Homo sapiens: one gene and its partners. The protein of the gene in region 3 binds, or shares a complex with, the protein of the main gene of each other region. Each region holds a gene or a part of one and is shown on either strand. Other genes may lie near its edges. A codon is read from its position in the direction of its gene.

Region 1 (7,046 bases), on a different chromosome or scaffold from region 3:
TATAAGTCAACATGGGTCCCATTCATATATTCATTCATTCATCAAATGATTGCTAAGCACCTTCTATGTGCAAGACACTGTGATATAGTAATATACAAAGTAGTACGATTCTGGTCCTTGAAGAGTAGAGAAGACAGACAGAAAATAATCACAGGATGGGATGGGCGGGGTGGCTCACGCCTGTAATCCAAACACTTTGGGAGGCTGAGGCGGACAGATCACAAGGCCAGAAGATCGAGACCACCCTGACCAACATGGTGAAACCCCATCTCTACTAAAAATATCAAAATTAGCTGGGTGTGGTAGTGCATGCCTGTATTCCCAGCTACTTGGGAGGCTGAGGCATGAGAATCGCTTGAACCCAGGAGGCAGAGGTTGCAGTGAGCCGAGATGGCACCACTGCACTCCAGCCTGGCGACACAGCAAGACTCTGTCTCAAAAACAAACAAACAAACAAACCCCTCCCCCCAAAAAAACAAACAAACAAAACCCAACAGAGTGAATCCAGGGTGCTCTATGTGCGATTGGAACCAGTACAGGGATTTAGAGTCCTTTTTTTTTTTTTTTTTTTTTTTGGAGACAGAGTTTCCTAGGCTGGAGTACAGTGGCAGGATCACAGCTCACTGCAGCCTCAAACTCCTGGCTCCAGGTGATCCTCCCACCTCAGCCTCTTGAGAGGCTGGGAGGACATGCACTACCACATCCAGCTAATTTATTTTTATTTTTGTAGAGGCAGGGTCTCATTATGTTGCCCAGGTTGGTCTCAAACTCCTGGGCTCAAGTGATCCTCCCATCTTGGCCTCCTAAAGTGTTGGGATTACAGGCATAAGCCACTGCACCCAGCCTAGAGTCCTGGCTTAAAACCTGGTTTTACCATTACTAGGCAACCTTGTCCAAATTAACTTCTCTGAGGCTCCGTTTCCTCTTCTGTAAAACAGGAATCATGGTACCTACTTCATAGGGTCGTTATGAGGATTAGATGGGATAATTTATAAAGTGTGTACCCCAGAGCTCAGGAGTCAAATGGTAATTATGGGATTCATAAAATATGCATTTGTGAGGCTGAGCGAGGTGGCTCATGTCTGTAATCCCAACACTTAGGGAGGGTGAGGCAGGAGGACTGCTTGAGCCCAGAAGTTTGAGATCAGCCTGGACAACATGGTGAGACTCTGTCTCTACTAAAAACACAAAAACTTAGCTGGGCATGGTGGCGTACACCTGTAGTCCCAGCTGCTCAGGAGGCTGAGGTGGGAGGATCACCTGAACCGAGTTTGTGTCACTGAACTGCAGCCTGAGAGACAGGGTCACACCCTGTCTCAAAAAAAAAAAAAATGTATTTGCAACTATGGCTTGCTCCTTTTCATCACAGGTATGCTTTATCTAAAGCAGCCTCCGCCTTCCCTCTCACCAACTGTCTTGTTACCCATCTAGCTTCTTTTTTTCCGGGGGGGGGGGGGGTGGTGGTACAGAGTCTCACTCTGTCACTAGACGAGTGCAGTGGCACGGTCTCGGCTCACTGCAACCTCCGCCTCCTGGGTTCAAGCGATTCTCCTGCCTCAGCCTCCCAAGTAGCTGGGATTACAGGCACGCACCACCACGCCTGGCTAATTTTTGTATTTTTAGTAGAGATGGGGTTTCACCATGTTGGCCAGGCTGGTCTTGAACTCCTGACCTCGTGATCCGCCCACCTAGGCCTCCCAAAGTGCTGGGATTACAGGCGTGAGCCACTGCGCCTGACCACCCATCTAGCTTCTTTATAGCATTTGTCACTACCTGACACTACCGTATGTATCTCCTTTATTATGTTTACACTTTTATTGTCTCGACTCCCGATTTGAATGTACATTCTTTAAGATTAGGGATTTGTTGAACTTATTTGCTGCTGTAAATACAGCCTGGCAGGCAGCAGGTGCTCGTTAACGTTTGTTAAAAATAATGTGTGAGCAGGCTGGGCGCGATGGCTCACGCTTATAATCCCAGCACTTTGGGAGACCGAGGGGGCGGATCACCTGAGGTCTGGAGTTCCAGACCAGCCTGGCCAACATGGTGAAACCCCGTCTCTACTAAAATGCAAAAAATTAGCTGGGCGTGGTGGCGCGCGCCTGTAATCTCAGCTACCCGGGAGGCTGAGGCACGAGAATTGCTTGAACCAGGGTGGTGGAAGTTGTAGTGAGCCGAGATCGCCTCACTGCACTCCAGCCTGGGCGACAGAACGAGACTCTCTCAAAAAACAAACAACAAAAAAAGTGTGAACAATCACATAATAACTGAACCACCTTTTCCCGAATCTGCAAAATGGAGACCATGACGGTGATAAATCTACCCCACAAACTGGCTGTCAGAAATTAAGTACAACCAGGCCGTCATAATTTTTTACTCCCACTCTGATGGCACACGAAAAAGGAAATCTTTGGAAGTCAGGCGCCGAACGAGTCTGTGAGGGCCCTAAACCCAGCTGGCTCCGGGATGGCCGCCGCTGCCGGGAAGTGGGTTCTGACAAATGACAAACAGCAGAGGGAGCCTGACCCCGGGGCGGAGGAGGAAGTGGGCCTGACAGAAAAAGGAGAAGCTAGACCCCTGGACTTGAAATATGAAAAATAAAAAGCGCAGCCCTTGGCTTCGCTCTCTAGTGAGGCTTTGGGAACCCTGCCGGAGTCGGAAGGAGTAGACGGAGAGAGAAAAGGGCCTCCTCACACACCCTGGACCCTTGGCCCACTCCTGCCGCGCCCCCGCCTCCCACGACTGGCACCCCCGGGCCGCCCCAATCCTTCAGCAACCGGTCCCCTCCCCTCGCCTCCCTCCTTCTCGGGCCCCAGCTTCCTCTCTGCCTTCCGCCGCCCGCTTCTCTCGGCACACACACGGTTTCTCTCTGCTCTTCGCAATCCCCGCTGTCTCCCCACACCGTGGATCGAACCCTCACCGGCATCTTGGCGGCGCCCGGGTTTCAACCCAGAGGAGCAGGATCCAGGTACAGCGGAGCGCTTCCGGTCTGGCAGCCTGGGCGAGGTAGGCGGAAGCGAAACGGAAGGGGCGGGTGCGGACGTGGAGCTTCCGGCCTTGCAGTTCCGCTTCTGGTTGCAGCGGCCGCGCGGATCTGAAGGAGGCGCCAGAGCACTAGGCAGGGGCCTTGAGTGGTGCAGCGTGAGGCAGCGCCCAGAATGGAGATGGGTCTTGAGGTTCCAGAATCTGAGATCAATCACCTCTTTTGTATTTTTTTCAAATGTCACCTTTTCAGGGCCGGGCATAGTGGCTCACGCCTGTAATCCCAGCACTTTGGGAGGTCGAGGCGGGTGGATCACCTGAGGTCAGGAGTTCGAGACCAGCCTGGATGGTGAAACCCCGTCTCTACTAAAAATACAAAAATTAGCTGGTCGTGGTAGCATCCCAGCTACTCGGGAGGCTGAGGCCGGAGAATCGCTTGAACCCAGGAGGCAGAGGTTGCAGTGAGCCAAGATCGCGCCGCTGCACTCCAGCCGGGATGACAGTGTGACTCTCTCAAAAAAAAAAAAAAAAAAAAAAAAAAAAAATCACCTTTCCTGTGAAGCATTCTCCGTTCATTCTATTTTCAGTTCACCCAACTCCAGCCCCATGCCTTATCCTTCTCTCCCGCTTTTTCCCTTAGTTCTTACGATTCTTGTATTTAGTTTACTCTTAGTGCTTGTGAATGCCAAAAAGGCAGCACTTCGTCCGTTTTGTCACCTGCGCCCGTAACAGTGACGGTATGTAGGAAACATCAATATTTGAGTGAATGAATGAACCCAATGCACTGCATCTAAAAATGGAGAAACTGAAGGGCACTGGACTCCAGGTTTGAATCGCAGCTCCAATACATACTAGCTCTGTAATTTTGAGCAAGTTAACTGGCCTGTGCTTCAGTTCCTCACCTGAAAATGGCAGTAACAGTATTTACCTCATAGTTTTGTGAGGATGAAATGAATTACATGTAAAATGCTTAGAACTTACATGCTTGGAGCATACTGAAAGCCCAGAGTTTTAACTTATTTATTACTAGAAAACTTCTTATGTTAAAAGTCAAGTTCATTGCTGCCTGAGAGCCATTTCTTCTGCCAGTTCCCAGCCTGAAATAGGACCCCATGTTCCCACATCTGATTTCACATTCAGCTGACTGGGCAAATAGCACCTTTTAGGCAAGGTCTTTTTTGACAAAGAGCCCAAAGTAGCCCCATAATCACTCTCCATTTCTTTTCTGCTTTTCTTTCCATCCTCTCTCTGAGGTTTCCTTCCTCATGGTCAGTCTCACAGGCCCAGCATGGCAGCCCCACGTGAGCAAGGCCCTGCCTGCACTGTGCATCCCTGTTCTATCCCCAGTGTCTGGCATCCACGGAACTTCAGTAAATTTGTGTAAATTTACTGAATTTCTGTCAGCCCTGCCTATGAGACAGTGAAATCCTCGAGGACTGGAATTGTCAGATTCATCTTTGAAACCCCAGTGTCCAGTGGGGAAGGCACTGGAATCGGGTCCTTCACTTTTTCTCCACAGGCACATACCATACTCTCTAGAAGCTAAACCAGGGAGGACCAAGGAAGAGGGCAACTGAAAATCTGCCTCTTCTTTCTTCCCCTCCCATGTGACAATAAGTTTCTAAGAATTAGCAACCCTGGGAGATCAGGCTGTTTCCACACTATCTATCCTCTAAGGGCCACAGGAAGGTCCCCAGGCAGCCCAGCACATCCCCATGTTGCCCACTCATCATGCTCCTCCCTGAGTGGACCATGGGGTAGACACCCGACCCTTCCCTCTAGCCTGGCCCCCAGGCATAAGCTACCACCGATACTTACAGGTCCTCACATTTTTTTTTTTTTTGAGATGGAGTCTCACTCTGTTGCCCAGGCTGGAGTGCAATGGTGCGATCCTGGCTCACTGCAACCTCCACCTTCTGGATTCAAGGGATTCTCCCACCTCAGCCTCTCAAGTAGCTGCGATTACAGGCACGCGCCACCACGCCCAGCTAATTTTTTGTATTTTTAGTAAAGACAGGCTTTCACCATGTTGGCCAGGTTGGTCTTGAACTCCTGACCTCAGGTGATCCACCTGCCTCGGCCTCCTAAAGTGCTGGCATTGTAGGTGTGAGCCACCACGCTTGGCCACATTTTGCTTAATTAAAATGAATCAAATTAGACACTGCAGTGTACTTGTTATCTAGGTCCAAGAATCATTAAAAACCTTTGTTTCTTTTATATATACACATACATATCTCAAAACATAGTTATTTTTACTTTTTAAGTTATATAAATAATATACATTTTCAATATAGGAAAATGGGAAGATACAGATAAGCAGTGGTCTTATATATATCCTTGCAGCTTTTTCCCTTCGGACATACATATTTTGTTACAGTAATTCCTGCATCTCAAAAATAATACAAAAAGTGAAAATAAGTTTAGACCAGCCTTAACCTTAGCTCAGGTGCTAATTTATATATAAATCTATGTGCATTCATTTCAATTTTGACTTACAAAATCTAAAGTGATGCTGTTATAATACTAAAAGATTCCACTTTAAACAGCAGCAGTTTCAGAATAATTAAAAATTTGATTCAGGCATGAGGCTGATAAAGAACGAAGTTTTACTTTTTTTCATTAAAATAAGTAGCTTTCTACTATTGCATCCTTTGAAGAGAAGAATGTTCTGCTGGTTTGGCCACAAGCTCTTTAGATGGTTACTTTTAGTAAACTCTTCATTCATCCTGGCATTCTTGAAAATATTCGTCAAACATAGAGGAAGACTCATCTTCACGTTCCTGACACAATGGAAACACAAAATAGAAAATATATTCATTTCCCCTCAGTCAGAACTAGTATGTGTTTATATATTTTTCAGGTAATACCCTATGTGGAACTAATTACCCAGCACCAGCTCCAGGTGCTGCTTATAGGTAACTGTTAATAGTAAGAAAAGGCATGATTGACAGATTTTTTTCCAGTTATGTAGTAAATTAATGTGCTTCTATCCCAGAAGCATTTCTCATTTGAATTTACATTCAAGACGATTCTTGGCTAATTTCCTGTGATAGTGCTTTACTTCGCTGGTAGTCTAGTGGTCAGGAAAATAAAAAATAAAAAAATAAAAAAATGCTTAGCTGATACTATCATTAGTCTTCTCAATGACATACGTGAGGGCAGCCCAATTTCACCTCCTCTTTACACATACACCCAAGCTCTAAGTACACACAGGCTTCATCATACTGCCTCAACAAAAGTAGAGTAAAAGTGATACTGCTTGTGGAGTACAGTGTTAATTTCAGAGATCACCCAGAAAAGCCCAGTTAACTGCCATCAATAAGACAAAAAACTAATTTAAGGAGTCGCCTGGATTATGCAAGAGTCCAGTGAGTGCTGGCAAATATTTTTATCAAAAGCTAACAAACACCCCAAACCAGAAATTACCTTTGGTTCTTTAAATTCTAGGTCTTCTCCATATTGAATGGCAAAATCAATATGCTGCAATACAATGTTCATGCTTTCTTCATCTGACTGATCGTAAGGTAAAAATCGAACCATGCTGTAGTCATCAATCTACAAGTTGTGGATTTCAAGAAAAGTTCATTCTGAAGTTGTGCAAAATACATAATTTTCAACTTATATTTGAGTTTTATAACCATTTGTACTTCTGAATAAAAACACTGATGTGTTTACAGGAAGAGGAGGAGAAGGGATAGCTAGACACAGAGAGTAAATCATTGATTTTTCTGACTTCTGATCTGCTAGAACACTTGTTAGCTTATTACTTTAACTAGACACTGTTTCACGGCTATTTATCTGAATTCAACAACCACTGGAAATTTCACAAGAGAACAAACAGTCCTGAACTCTCCAAATGGCTTGAAATAATAAGATGTTAGTTTATTTATTGGCCACTACCAATAACTACTTCTAAATTAAACTGCTGACTGACCAGCCCACAGCCCTTTTCCCTCCACTTTGCAGAAAATAGGGTTGAACTGTGCTTTTTATATGGCAAATGACTGGACACAGGCAAACACTTGACCAGGTGTTTAGGAAAAAAACCCAAAAAACTTCATCTT
Region 2 (5,948 bases), on a different chromosome or scaffold from region 3:
ACTTAACCAAGAGTTATCTAATCCTGAGTTAATCTCTGAGCTTTGTCTCACTGACTTTGATCAACTGTTTTAGATAATGAGATTATGTATTACAGAGTACTGTATGTTACATCTTTCATATATGACTCATTGTTGAAATTAAATTGAGTATGGGCTCACATACATTAAACAGATTAACAGACTGGAAAGGAGCCATACTGTCTAAGTACTTCACTTATTTTTCTGATTTTATTGAGTTTTACATATAATTTATAATTAATCTCAGGTGATCATTTATTCAGCAAACATTTCTTGAACTCCTGGGTGCCAGACATAGGTCTAGGTGCCGGGGACAAACAAAACAATGAAAACAGAATCCCTGCTTTTAGTCTAAATAATGTATTAGTGGTAATAAGTGATATGAAGAAAAGTAAGGTGAAGAGCTGGAAAATGTTAGTGGTTGGGGAGGTAGTGTGCTCCTTCATAAACTGTGATCAGGAAAGGCCTTTTGGATGAAGTGACTTTTGATCAGAGACCTAAGTTGAGCGTGAGAGGAGTGAGCCTTGTGACTGTCTGGGGGAAGAATCTTCCAGGCAGGAAAAATGCAAAAGCCCCAGGTTGGTGGGAGTGTGCCAGTGTGGCTGGAGCAGAGTGAGCAAGGGAGGGGGGCAGGTGGGATATGAGGTCAGAAGGGTAGCAGGAGGGCAGGTCTTGTTCAGCCATGGTAAAGGGTTTGGCTTGACTCCTGGTGAAATGGAAAGTCTTGGGTGTGGGGGCGGTTTAAGCAGAGAAATGATAGGATCTGATGTATATTTTTAAAGGATCATTAAGTCTGGTGTGGTGAATAGACTCTTGGGGGAAGAGGGAACAAAGGTGGGCATAGAGAGACCAGTTAGGAGGCACTGAGAGGAGGGGAGGGATGGTAGAGTTTTAGAATAGAGGAGGAGGTTGAAATGGTTGTTTTGGAGAATGGAAGCGAGAATAGAGAAATGTAATAGGATTGCCATGCAGCAGGAAGGGCTCAGTTGAGGTTAGTGATACATTATAGCAAGATGTTTTGTTTCTTTCCTATCTTGTTCAGCTGCTTGACAGCAGGTGCAATTTGTCTGTAGGAATCTGTAGATGAGTTCAGCAAGGAGGGAGTGGTAGATGGAATGATCTGATAGAATGAGTTTCAGTGGGGCTATGGAGTTTTAGGGATGAGCGAGATAGAAGCAGCAATGAAGAGCAATAACTCATATTACCAAACCTCCAGGGTTAAGGTAGTGTGTGAGAGAGAAACAGTAAAGCAGTTGAGGTATTTACAGAAGCAGTGTCTTCAGGGGCTAGCTAAGTTTCCCTTAGAGTAGAGGTGGTCATCTATAGCCCTTATGCCAAAACTGGTTTGTTTGTTTTTTTTAAGTTTTATTGGAACACAGCCAAGCCCATTTGTTTACATAATGTTACCTGTTGTCACATATTGTCTGTGGGCACCTTCTAGCTACATGTGGGGTTGGGTACTTGTCACGCCTACAAAGCCTCAAGTATCTGGCCCTTCACAAAAAAAGTTTGCTGACCCCTATGTAAGAGCAAGAAAGTAAAAGGAACAATTAAAACAGTCTCAGAATTGGTAAATAAACTGATGTTTTTCTTTATCTTGGATTGTTAGAACCCTTACAGTTCATTTATGTGACATAAATATACAAATGATTTAGAATGACATAGTTACATTGGGTCTTTTTTGCAGATCGTGATACTGTAAATGAAAAACTTGCTATGTCATTTTAAGGTTTCTCTTTCAGGTGTTGACCAACCATAAAGATAAGGATGTGTCCTTCCTAGACACTTAATAGTAGCTACAGAGTATAAAACTTTTCCCAATTGCCTTTAATTTTGGTTACTGTGTTCATTTTCTCATAACATCCTGATGATTTGTTTTGACCATATTTGGCCTTGTTTATTTTAAGAACATTTCATTTGATTTTGAGACAATAGAAAGTAAGCTTTGCTTAAAAGAAAAGAACTTCAGTTTTACTCTATTGCCCTGGACTAGAATCATAACAGTATGAGACCTTGAAGAAGTCATGCAAGTCCTCTTTTTTTTTTTTTTTTTTTTTTTTTTTTGAGATTGAGTCTCTGGGCTCACTGCAAGCTCCACCTCCCAGGTTTACGTCATTCTCCTGCCTCAGCCTCCCGAGTAGCTGGGACTACAGGCACCCACTACCATGCCCGGCTAATTTTTTTGTATTTTTAGTAGAGACGGGGTTTCACTGTGTTAGCCAGGATGGTCTCGATCTCCTGACCTCGTGATCCGCCCGCCTTGGCCTCCCAAAGTGCTGGGATTACACTTGAGCCACCACACCCAGCCATGCAAGTCCTCTTATCCAGACTTTGCTTGACAGCAAAGTGACTTTCCCAAGTGGTCATCTGCCATTGGATGGGAAATTTGCTCTAATTATGTCTTGGATGTTTGGTCTCTCAGTAGGGTGTTAAGTCATGTAATTTACTGATCAAATTAGGACACTCAAGAATGGAAAGGGTGGTATTAATAATGATGGGACACCACGTGTAAATCAGGACTGTTCCAAGCATGCTGGGATGGATGTGTGGTCTCCTAAACATGAGCTTTGGGCAAATTACTAAATGTTTCTGTACCTCAGGTACCAAATATTACGTTCTACTTATATTACAGGACTGTTGCAAGTTTGAGGGAGAGCATATATTTAAAAAGCCATTTTCATAAAGCAGAAAGCACTGTGCACATGTACCATTTCATTATCCTTTCTTTCTCCTTTAGAAATTTAAGATCCGCATTGAAGACCCACCCCGCAGAAAGCACATGGTATTCCTGGGTGGTGCAGTTCTAGCGGATATCATGAAAGACAAAGACAACTTTTGGATGACCCGACAAGAGTACCAAGAAAAGGGTGTCCGTGTGCTAGAGAAACTTGGTGTGACTGTTCGATAAACTCCAAAGCTTGTTCCCGTCATACCCGTAATGCTTTCTTTTTTCCTTTATTGCCAATCTTTGAACTCATTCAACTCCAGGACATGGAAGAGGCCTCTCTCTGCCCTTTGACTGGAAAGGTCAAGTTTTATTCTGGTGTCTTGGGGAAGCTTTGTTAAATTTTTGTTAATGTGGGTAAATCTGAGTTTAATTCAACTGCTTCCCTACATAGACTAGAGGGCTAAGGATTCTGTCTGCTGCTTTGTTTCTTCTAAGTAGGCATTTAGATCATTCCTATAGGCTTCCTATTTTCACTTTACTGCTCTAATGCTGCTAGTCGTAGTCTTTAGCACACTAGGTGGTATGCCTTTATTAGCATAAAACAAAAAAAACTTTAACAGGAGCTTTTACATATTACTGGGATGGGGGGTGGTTCGGGATGGGTGGGCAGCTGCTGAACCCTTTAGGGCATTTCCTCTGTAATGTGGCGCTTTCAACTGTACTGCTGCAGCTTTAAGTACCTTAAAGCTTCTCCTGTGAACTTCTTAGGGAAATGTTAGGTTCAGAACTAAAGTGTTTTGGGTGGGTTTTGTTGCGGGGGGGAGGGTAACAATGGGTGGTCTTCTGATTTTTATTTTTGAGGTTTTGTCAACTGGAGTACGTAGAGGAACTTTATTTACAGTACTTTGATTTGGCAGGTTTTCTTCTACTTGTGCTCTGCCTGGAGCTGTTTCCATATGATATAAAAAGCAAGTGTAGTATTCCATTACTATGTGGCTTAGGGATTTATTTGTTTTTTAAAATCAACCATGTTAGCTGGGATTAGACTCCCTACAGTCCTTCAATGGAAAAGTAACATTTAAAAATCCTTTGGGTAATTCGAATTACAGATTTAAAAGAGCTTAAGATCTGGTGTTTTGTTAATGCTTCTGTTTATTCCAGAAGCATTAAGGTAACCCATTGCCAAGTATCATTCTTGCAAATTATTCTTTTATATAACTGACCAGTGCTTAATAAAACAAGCAGGTACTTACAAATAATTACTGGCAGTAGGTTATAATTGGTGGTTTAAAAATAACATTGGAATACAGGACTTGTTGCCAATTGGGTAATTTTCATTAGTTGTTTTGTTTGTTTTGATTTGAAACCTGGAAATACAGTAAAATTTGACTGTTTAAAATGTTGGCCAAAAAAATCAAGATTTAATTTTTTTATTTGTACTGAAAAACTAATCATAACTGTTAATTCTCAGCCATCTTTGAAGCTTGAAAGAAGAGTCTTTGGTATTTTGTAAACGTTAGCAGACTTTCCTGCCAGTGTCAGAAAATCCTATTTATGAATCCTGTCGGTATTCCTTGGTATCTGAAAAAAATACCAAATAGTACCATACATGAGTTATTTCTAAGTTTGAAAAATAAAAAGAAATTGCATCACACTAATTACAAAATACAAGTTCTGGAAAAAATATTTTTCTTCATTTTAAAACTTTTTTTTAACTAATAATAGCTTTGAAAGAAGAGGCTTAATTTGGGGGTGGTAACTAAAATCAAAAGAAATGATTGACTTGAGGGTCTCTGTTTGGTAAGAATACATCATTAGCTTAAATAAGCAGCAGAAGGTTAGTTTTAATTATGTAGCTTCTGTTAATATTAAGTGTTTTTTGTCTGTTTTACCTCAATTTGAACAGATAAGTTTGCCTGCATGCTGGACATGCCTCAGAACCCTGAATAGCCCGTACTAGATCTTGGGAACATGGATCTTAGAGTCACTTTGGAATAAGTTCTTATATAAATACCCCCAGCCTTTTGAGAACGGGGCTTGTTAAAGGACGCGTATGTAGGGCCCGTACCTACTGGCAGTTGGGTTCAGGGAAATGGGATTGACTTGGCCTTCAGGCTCCTTTGGTCATAATTTTAAAATATGGGAGTAGAAAACAACAAAGAATGGAATGGACTCTTAAAACAATGAAAGAGCATTTATCGTTTGTCCCTTGAATGTAGAATTTGTTTTTGATTTCATAATTCTGCTGGTAAATGTGACAGTTAAAATGGTGCATTATGTATATATATTATAATTTAGAAATACCATTTTATAATTTTACTATTCCAGGGTGACATAATGCATTTAAATTTGGGATTTGGGTGGAGTATTATGTTTAACTGGAGTTGTCAAGTATGAGTCCCTCAGGAAAAAAAAAAAATTCTGTTTTAAAAAGCAATCTGATTCTTAGCTCTTGAAACTATTGCTACTTAAATTTCCAATAATTAAAAATTTAAAATTTTTAAATTAGAATTGCCAATACTTCTACATTTGAGAAGGGTTTTTTTAGAAATACATTTAGTAAAGTCCCCAAGACATTAGTCTTACATTTAAACTTTTTTCTTTAAAACATGGTTTTGGTGGTTAACTTTTACACAGTTCTGAGTACTGTTAATATCTGGAAAGTATCTTGAGATATCAGTGGAAAGCTAAACAGTCTAAATTAACATGAAATACTTCATTTTGATTGAGAAAATAAAATCAGATTTTTTCAAAGTCAATTTGAATTTTGTCATTTCTTTCTAATAGTTATTTCTTGTTTCATTTTCTTGTTAATGCAAGATGAATTGACAGTTTATGCTAGTTGTTAGGTCAAGTTCATGTCAGTGTTCTATTATTGACAAAACAACTCATTATTTCTGGTATGATTTTATAAATACATAAGAAAATAGAATAGCGATTTATAGCTACATCAGAGGCTGTTTTCTTCCAACAAACTGTTTTGTCTCCCAAAAGATTTAAGGTGGCTTTCACAGAATTAGAAATGCTAAAGAGACCTGTATGTAACATGCCCCCTTTCAAGGACATATTAGCTCATCTGCAGACTTTTAGGCATATTATTTTTAACAAATAAAAGAAGGATGAAAATACATTTAACTGACCTTTTCTTGTTTTATACTAGCCTTGAGGATGAGGGCTGGAGAGTAGAGAGAGTATTTTTGCCTTTCCTTCTTCGTGGACTTGTATGTGCAAACCTCATTGCCCGCTTCAGGGCCGGAGTCCC
Region 3 (7,790 bases):
TTTTTTTTTGAGACAGAGTCTTACTCTGTTGTCCAGGCTGGAGCGCAGTGGTGCAATCTTGGCTCACTGCAACCTCCACCTCCCGGGTTCAAGTGATTCACCTGCCTCAGCCATGCGAATAGCTGAGATGACAAGTGTGCACCACCGTGCCTGGTTAATTTTTGTATTTTTAGTAGAGATGGGGTTTCGCCATGTTGGCCAGGCTGGTCTCAAACTCCTGACCTCAAGTGACCCGCCCATCTCGGCCTCCTAAAGTGCTGGGATTACAGACATGAACCACTGCACCTGCCCTCCTTCATGCCTTTGTAAGTGATTTCTCCTTTACTAGGCTGTAAACCTCATGGTCAACAGACCATATCTATTTTATTCACAGCTATATAGCCTCCAACCTAGCTCAGTACCTAACATATACAGTGTCTCACTCATTTCCTGTAGAATAAATAAGCGAAAGAAATAATTAAGATTAGAGTAACACAAAAGGACAGCAAGAGTTCCAGAGTAGTAATGAGTACAATGTTTCTGTATATGAGAAGCATTTTAGATTCACTAAATGAGGCTGCAGCGGTAGGCTGAGGTAAGATCATGGGGAATCTTGAATGCCAGGCTACCAAGTTTAGCTTTTCTCTTAAGGGGGTAAGGAACTACTGGGGCTTTCTGAGGAGGAAGTTCATGACTGCAGCTGCATGATGGCTCTGTGGAGAATGATTTGGAGAGGGAAGTGAGACATACAGCAGACTGTATCACAAGCAAAGAGTATCACAAGCGTTGGACTGACATTAGATGGAGTGGATAATGGAACTGAAAAAAAACTTCCCAGGGGCTCACGCCTGTAATCCCGGCACTTTGGGAGGCCGAGGTGGGTGGACCACCTCAGGTCAGGAGTTCAAGACCAGCCTGGCCAACATGGCAAAACCCCGTCTCTACTAAAAATACAAAAAATTAGCTGTGGCGGGTGCCTGTAATCTCAGCTACTTGAGAGGCTGAGGCAGTAGAATTGCTTGAACCCAGGAGACTGAGGTTGCAGTGAGCCGAGATCACGCCACTGTGCTCCAGCCTGGGTGACAGAGCGAGACTGTGTCTTAAAAAAAAAGAAAAAGAAAAACCACTTCCAACGAACTGTGGTCCAGCCATTCAATTAACTACTACTTGGTAATAAAAAAAGAGTAACTATTGATACACACAACATGGTTGACTCTCAAATGTATTATGGTAAGAAGCCACACTTAAAAGCCTGCATACTAAAGAATTCCATTTACATGACAATCTGAAAAAGGCAAAACTACAGGGGGGAAAAATCAGTAGTTGTCTGGGGTGGGAAGGAGAGGACTGATTACAAAAGGGCTTGAGGGAACTTTTTGGGGTGACGGAAATGTTCTGTATTTTGGTTGCAGTAGTGGTTACACAACTTGACTTTTTTTTTTTAAGACACGGGATCTTGCTATATTGTCCAGGCTGAAGTGCAGTGGCTATTCACAGGAGTGATCACAGTGTACTACGGCCTCGAACTTCTGGGCTCAAGTGATCCTCCTGCCTCAGTGTCCTGAGCGGATGGTACTACAGGCGCATGCCACCATACCCAGCAAGTTTTTGCAACGCTTTTTTTTTTGAGACGGAGTCTTACTCTGTTGCCCAGTCTGGTGTGCAGTGGCACGATCTCGACTCACTGCAAGCTCTGCTTTCTGGGTTCACGCCATTCTCCTGCCTCAGCCTCCTGAGTAGCTGGGACTACAGGTGCCCACCACCACGCCCGGCTAATTTTTTGCATTTTTAGTAGAGAAGAGGTTTCACCGTGTTAGCCAGGATGGTCTCGATCTCCTGACGTCGTGATCCGCCCGCCTCTGCCTCCCAAAGTGCTGGGATTACAAGCGTGAGCCACCACGCCTGGCCTTTGTCAACAGTTATAGAAAGTAAACCTAAAAAGGGTGACTGGCTCCGTGACGCCTGTCCTTTCATGAATAAAACAGATGTAGTCTCATGTAATACCTCAATAAACTTGAACTTTTAAAAATCAAGAGGCATGTGCCCCACTAGAAAAAAAAAATACAGATTTTTAGCAGAGACATGAGGTCACAAAAGTTTGCCAGGATAGGGAACCCAGGAGGAAGAACAAATTTAGAATAGAATATGAGTTTTGAACTAGAGGTCTAATTTCAAGGTCTCTTCAAGATATCCAGGCAAACCTTGAAAGAGAGCTGAGAAGCCAGATTAGGAGTCATCAGAATGAAGAAAGTTATCGAAGCCAGGAGACTAGATCGGTATCACCAGGGAAGGTGTGACGAAGAGGGAGATGGTCATCCAAAGTCACAACTCCCAGGAATGCCCACACGTATGAAAAAGGCCCACATGTATGAAAAAGGCCCACATGTATGAAAAAGGGAGGACTTCCAGGAAGGGAGGGATGAGCAGTATCACAGCTAACATACACTAAGGCTGACACAGTTCAGTTCTGACCAGGAAGGGCCTGAATGGAAGCAACACGAGAGATCCTCCAATGGGGTGGAAGCAGGGCTGGAGGTACCAAGAATGGGATAAGGAAGTGTGGCCGCCTGCCTTAAGCAACTGTAGGGTCAGGAAGGCAGAAGAGGACAAAGGGCGTATGTCGTGAAGTTCCACTGTGGATAGGCAGGTGGACTTGCTTCATGCCTCAGAGGCTAAGAGGCCGACTACGTACCCTCGAAATGCTCCAAAGAGCCTAGGAGACCCCACTTCCGGGTTCCTACAGGGCTCAGGAAAAGCCCCTACCTGCTTCGAAGGCTGACCGTGAAGCCACAAGGCCCACTTCATACCAGGGAGTACCCCCACTCGCCCCTTCCTCACCTCGGGCCCCCGCCCCGTCTCTTTTTCCCACCCTCATCGTGTCCCCACAACCCCCGGACATCCCTCGGCCCCGCGCCCCTGCGGCAAAGCCACATCTCCCACCGACCCACTGCCCTGAGGCCGAACAGCCGGGGGTCCCTGGCCGGGGGCCCGGCTCTCTCACCATCGCGGGCGCTGGCTGGGCCGGAAAGCGGAAGTACGGAAGTGGCCAGCCCCGCGATGCCTGCCCTTTCGCGAGAAGCGCAGCTACGGTCTCCGCCCGGACTTCCGGACGGTACCATCTATGCTCCGAGCGGGGTAGAGAGCCCTTACGAACGCTTGGGCCTTCCGGAAGTTTTCCACCTAGGGCTGTCTCGGTATTTTTAAATTCTTGCACTCGAGTCACTATTTAAGCTCCTCCAGGAATGGGTGCAGCTTCCCTTTGTGCCTTCGGCCTTCTTGTCACCTTTGCCACAGCCTCCCCCAGGTATGCAATGGTACAGCCCAGCTTCAGATTGGGCACCAAATTAGGACAAGCCGAAGCGGACGAGCCCTTCGTTTCTTCCGGTTCTGTACCCCCATCCTTTCTCTCGCCCCTCCTACCCGCAGCTCCTGGCGCTCGGCGGGGCTAACTGCAGCGCGGAGATCTCGGCCGCCAAGCTCCGCCTCCCGCCCCGGGCTGTGCCCCGGGGCTCGCCTGAGGCCGACCACCCGCACCCCACCTCTAGCGGCTTTGCTCGAGGCCCACCTTCTTCCCACCCCCGGCAAACTCCAGTAGGCTCGCCCTCGCTGACTCCCCGCCCCCGCGTCAACTGCAAGGGGCCCGCCCATAGCCAGTTCCGGGGCGGTTGCTCACATCGACCGGAACTCCCCGCCCCCTCCCGCGGCCCCTGGGGCCGTAGGAGGCCGCAGCGAGGAGGTAGAGGGGGCGGGGGTCGCACTAGGGTGTCCCTAGAGAACGAGGACTCTGAAGGCGGGACATTTGGGCGACCCCCGGGCGGGGCCAGCCATTAAACAGTCCCACTTCTGTGCCAGACACTGAACTGGGCTCTTGACGGGCATCATCTCTTAATCCTCAGAACATCCCAGGGAGGTAGGTACTATTGTTATCCCCATTTTTCAGATTCAGACTTTTAATGGGGAAACAGACCGAGACTTCTTTTGTCCCCATTTTACAGATGGAAAAACTGAGACTGAAAAAGGTCAAATAACATGTTCAGGGGCATATAAGTAGAGAATGGTAAAGCCTGGGCTTGAACCCAGGTCTGTCTGGCTTACCAGCCCACGTTCTAAACCACTGTTAGTGACTAGAGAAGGGAGAAAGGTGGAATAGGGTAAGAAAAGAGGCCAAGAGTCCCAGAGAACATGGTAAGAATGGGGTGCTTGGAACTCAAAGTCTTAGCAGAACCCAAGAGAAATAGAAGGGAAGGAAAGAGCATCAGAAAGGCGAGGCAAGGCATAGCAGTATAGCATGGTGATCAGGGTGCAGACTCAAGACTAGCGGGGTTCAAATTGCATCTTGGAAGCATAGGCACATACCCACCCTTACAGAGTCTCAGTTTCTTTCTCTGTAAAAACGAGATCACAATGGTCCTTGTTCATGGTGCTGAGTGAGAAATTCAGTGAGATAAACTGATAAAGTGCTCTGCACCTAGCTTGGTACCCAGTTAAGTGCCCTGTGAGTAGGAACTGTGCCATCAATTTTGTCAGTAAGGGACTGAAGCTGGGCTTCCTTGAGGCTGTCCCTGGAGGTAAGAAGCCCTTGGGCTTTTCTCAGACCACTTTGTCTCCCATCAATGGCCCTGTCCTCTCCAGCTCCACAGGATCCCCATATCCTGGGCCATGAGTGAGTTGAAAGACTGCCCCTTGCAGTTCCACGACTTCAAGTCTGTGGATCACCTGAAGGTCTGTCCCCGCTACACGGCAGTGCTGGCACGCTCTGAGGATGATGGCATCGGCATCGAGGAGCTGGACACCCTGCAGCTGGAGCTGGAGACCCTGCTGTCTTCTGCCAGCCGGCGCCTGCGTGTGCTTGAGGCCGAAACCCAGGTGATAACCCCAGAGAGGGGCCAGCACCAGAGATGGACTGCAACAAGTTATGGGATGGGTCATTGAGTTAGCCCCATATGCTGAGACTTGGGGTACAGGGGTTTGTGGGGAGAGGGAGAGAGACGCAAACTGGGTTTGCATGACACAAAAAATACACAAGAATATGCATGATCCTCTTAAATTGCAAGATTTCTAATTCAGTAAGCTTTTATTGGCACCCCACTCATCCCCCATTGTGTTCTGGGTCCTATGCTAGTCATTAGAGAAAGGTAATTAGGACAGTTATGGCTGTCAGGGAGCTTGGCAACTAGGAAAGTGAGAAAGTCAAGTACATACCAGGTGATGTGATGTTGTGGTTAGCAGTCCTAGGGAACTGGAATGGGGAAACCTGGATTTGAATCCTGGCATAAGCGCTTGCTAGCATTGCTGTTTCCTAGCTATGTGACTTTGAGAAAGTTGCCTCATATCTCTGAGTGTCAGTTTCCCTATCTGCAAAGTGGGGTGAATAATAGGACCTACCTTAGTGCTTTTGTGAGGATTAAAAGAGAATTTTTTGCAAAAACTCAGCCCAATGCCAGACACTAAGTAAGTACTTCAGATGTTATTTATTTGCTACTCTGATGACTTTATTCACTGCATAAAGATGCCTTGAGCCTTGTGTGCCAGGCGCTATGCTGTATTCTGCAAAATAGAGATGGTTAAGGTGGGCTTTCTGGTCCTCAGTAGCTTATGGTCTAGTTGAAGAGACAAGGTGTGATGGTCATTCCAGTGTGACCAAACAACACGATTGGGTGCACGTTGGAGCTGTGAAGTGCCAGAGACTTGTGGAGGAAGGAGGTGCCAACTGGACCTAAAAGGATGAATGGAATTAACTTGTCCCTGGGAATCCATGGACCCTCCTTGAGGAAGGCTATGACTCAAGTTGTATTTTAGCATCTAAGAACCTGGGTAACTGATTGAGAGAAGGCATCTCAGTAGTGGTGACATCGAAGTGAAGGTTTGCTGAGAGGACTCTTCTGTTAAACAGTATGTGACTGGCATGGGTGATACAGAAGTGAATCAGTATAGATGAACAAGTGAATGAGATTATGAGAAGTATATGAATAAAGTTCTAGGAGGCCAGGCACAGAAAATGAGCTGAATTTTGAAGGATGAGTAAGAGTTTACTAGGTAAAAAGAGGATGGGGAAAGACCCAGGAGCCTCTGTAGATTCTAGATCCTAATTTATTCACTAGAGGAAAGAGATATTCTGTGTTTTCCCTTCTCCCCCTCAGTGACACTTTCTGTAAATTTCAGATCCTCACCGACTGGCAGGATAAGAAAGGTGACAGACGATTCCTGAAGCTGGGTCGAGACCATGAACTTGGAGCTCCCCCCAAACATGGGAAGCCCAAGAAGCAGAAACTGGAAGGGAAGGCAGGACATGGGCCGGGCCCTGGCCCAGGACGGCCCAAATCCAAAAACCTTCAGCCCAAGATCCAGGAATATGAATTCACTGATGACCCTATCGACGTGCCACGGATCCCCAAAAATGATGCCCCCAACAGGTTCTGGGCTAGAGAACATAGAAGGGGGCCTCAAGGTTCTGGTGGTGGAGGCACTGGTGGGGCAGGGGCGCCCACTCAGGATCTGCTTCTCCCTGCAGGTTCTGGGCTTCAGTGGAGCCCTACTGTGCTGACATCACCAGCGAGGAGGTCCGCACACTTGAGGAGTTACTGAAGCCCCCAGAAGATGAGGCTGAGCATTACAAGGTAGAAACTCTGGGCCTTGATAGACATGATGCGGAACAAGAGAGTTCAGAGGTGCCTGAGAAGTAAAGCTACCAAAGCCATGCATCATCTTCCTTCCCCAACCCTGCCCAGTCTGCTGTCTGCTCCATCAGTGCCTCCAGACACCTAGGCCCAAACTCAGCTTTCTCCGTGCACTGCCTCCCCTCTACCCCAGCCAAATGTCAACACGCCCTCAAGCATCTACTTAAGTGAAGTCTGCCCATGTTCCTTTATCCCCATCCCCTCTGCTTTGGTCCAAGCCTTCATCAACTTCTATCCAAACAGCCTCTTAACTCTCTTCCTGTTTCGAGGCCTCTGGAGGAACCTTTCTTCTTTCTTTAAGATATAAAACTTGGGCTGGGAGCAGTGGCTTATGCCTGCAATCCTAGCACTTTGGGAGGCCGGGGCGGGCAGATTGCTTGAGCTCAGGAATTTGAGACCAGCCTGGGCAACATGGTGAAACCCCATCTCTACCAAAATACAAAAAATTAGCCAGGCATGGCGGTGTGCGCCTGTAGTCCCAGCTACTCGGGAGGCTGAGTCAGGAGGATCTCTTGGACCCGGGAGGTGGAAGTTGCAGTGAGCCGAGATCACGCCACTGCACTCCAGCCTGGGCAACAGAGCAAGACTCCGTCTCCAAAAAAAAAAAAAAGATATAAAAGTCACCTCACGCCTGTAATCCCAACACTTTGGGAGGCTGTGGCAGGCAGATCATCTGAGGTCAGGAGTTCAAGACCAGCCTGACCAACATGGTGAAACGCCGTCTCTACTAAAAATACAAAAATTAGCCTGGCACGGTGGCATGCACCTGTAATCCTGGCTACTCGGGAGGCTGAGCCAGGAAAATCACCTGAACTGGGGAGGCATCGGTTGCAATGAGCCAAGATCGTGCCACTGTATTCCAGCCTGGGTGACAGAAGGAGATTCCATCCATTAAAAAAAAAAAAGCCGGGTGCGGTGGCTCAAGCCTGTAATCCCAGCCCTTTGGGAGGCCGAGGCGGGCAGATCACAAGGTCAGGAGATTGAGACCATCCTGGCTAACACGGTGAAACCCCGTCTCTACTAAAAATAGAAAAAATTAGCCGGGCGTGGTGGCGGGCGCCTGTAGTCCCAGCTGCTCGGGAGGCTAAGGCAGGAGAATGGCGTGAACCCGGGAGGCGGAGCTTGCAGTGAGCT

What was found.
Region 1: ARPC4 (region 3) and ARPC3 share a complex: the UniProt entries of both Homo sapiens proteins name them as parts of the arp2/3 complex.
Region 2: the proteins of ARPC4 (region 3) and ACTR2 are in contact, whole or in part, in a cryo-EM structure (PDB 6YW6), measured with the Homo sapiens proteins. Residues at the interface, in NP_005709.1 of Homo sapiens: Val29, Val30, Glu31, Arg32, His33, Lys35, Pro36, Glu39, Val40, Ala98, Glu99, Asn100, Phe102, Ile103, Leu104, Arg105, Arg106, Lys107, Leu117, Thr119; in NP_005713.1 of Homo sapiens: Tyr222, Val223, Tyr225, Gln229, Glu230, Lys232, Leu233, Ala234, Leu235, Glu236, Thr237, Thr238, Val239, Lys253, Thr308, Met309, Tyr310, Pro311, Gly312, Pro314, Ser315, Asp346 (codon at 2,777).

The regions. Positions count from the first base shown.
Region 1 is NC_000012.12:110,447,335-110,454,380, forward strand, and holds the start of ARPC3 (actin-related protein 2/3 complex subunit 3), read right to left. Parts: upstream 3,004-7,046; 5' UTR 2,927-3,003; coding exon 2,921-2,926; intron 1-2,920. Other genes in the region: GPN3 (GPN-loop GTPase 3), read right to left, coding at 5,700-5,762, 6,409-6,537. UniProt on the Homo sapiens protein: Component of the Arp2/3 complex, a multiprotein complex that mediates actin polymerization upon stimulation by nucleation-promoting factor (NPF).
Region 2 is NC_000002.12:65,265,809-65,271,756, forward strand, and holds the end of ACTR2 (actin-related protein 2), read left to right. Parts: intron 1-2,755; coding exon 2,756-2,926; 3' UTR 2,927-5,445; downstream 5,446-5,948. UniProt on the Homo sapiens protein: ATP-binding component of the Arp2/3 complex, a multiprotein complex that mediates actin polymerization upon stimulation by nucleation-promoting factor (NPF).
Region 3 is NC_000003.12:9,788,315-9,796,104, reverse strand, and holds the start of ARPC4 (actin-related protein 2/3 complex subunit 4), read right to left. Parts: upstream 3,024-7,790; 5' UTR 2,984-3,023; coding exon 2,981-2,983; coding exon of another isoform or gene 2,924-2,980; intron 1-2,923. Other genes in the region: ARPC4-TTLL3 fusion protein, read right to left, coding at 2,981-2,983; TADA3 (transcriptional adapter 3), read left to right, coding at 4,639-4,845, 6,142-6,392, 6,491-6,596. UniProt on the Homo sapiens protein: Actin-binding component of the Arp2/3 complex, a multiprotein complex that mediates actin polymerization upon stimulation by nucleation-promoting factor (NPF).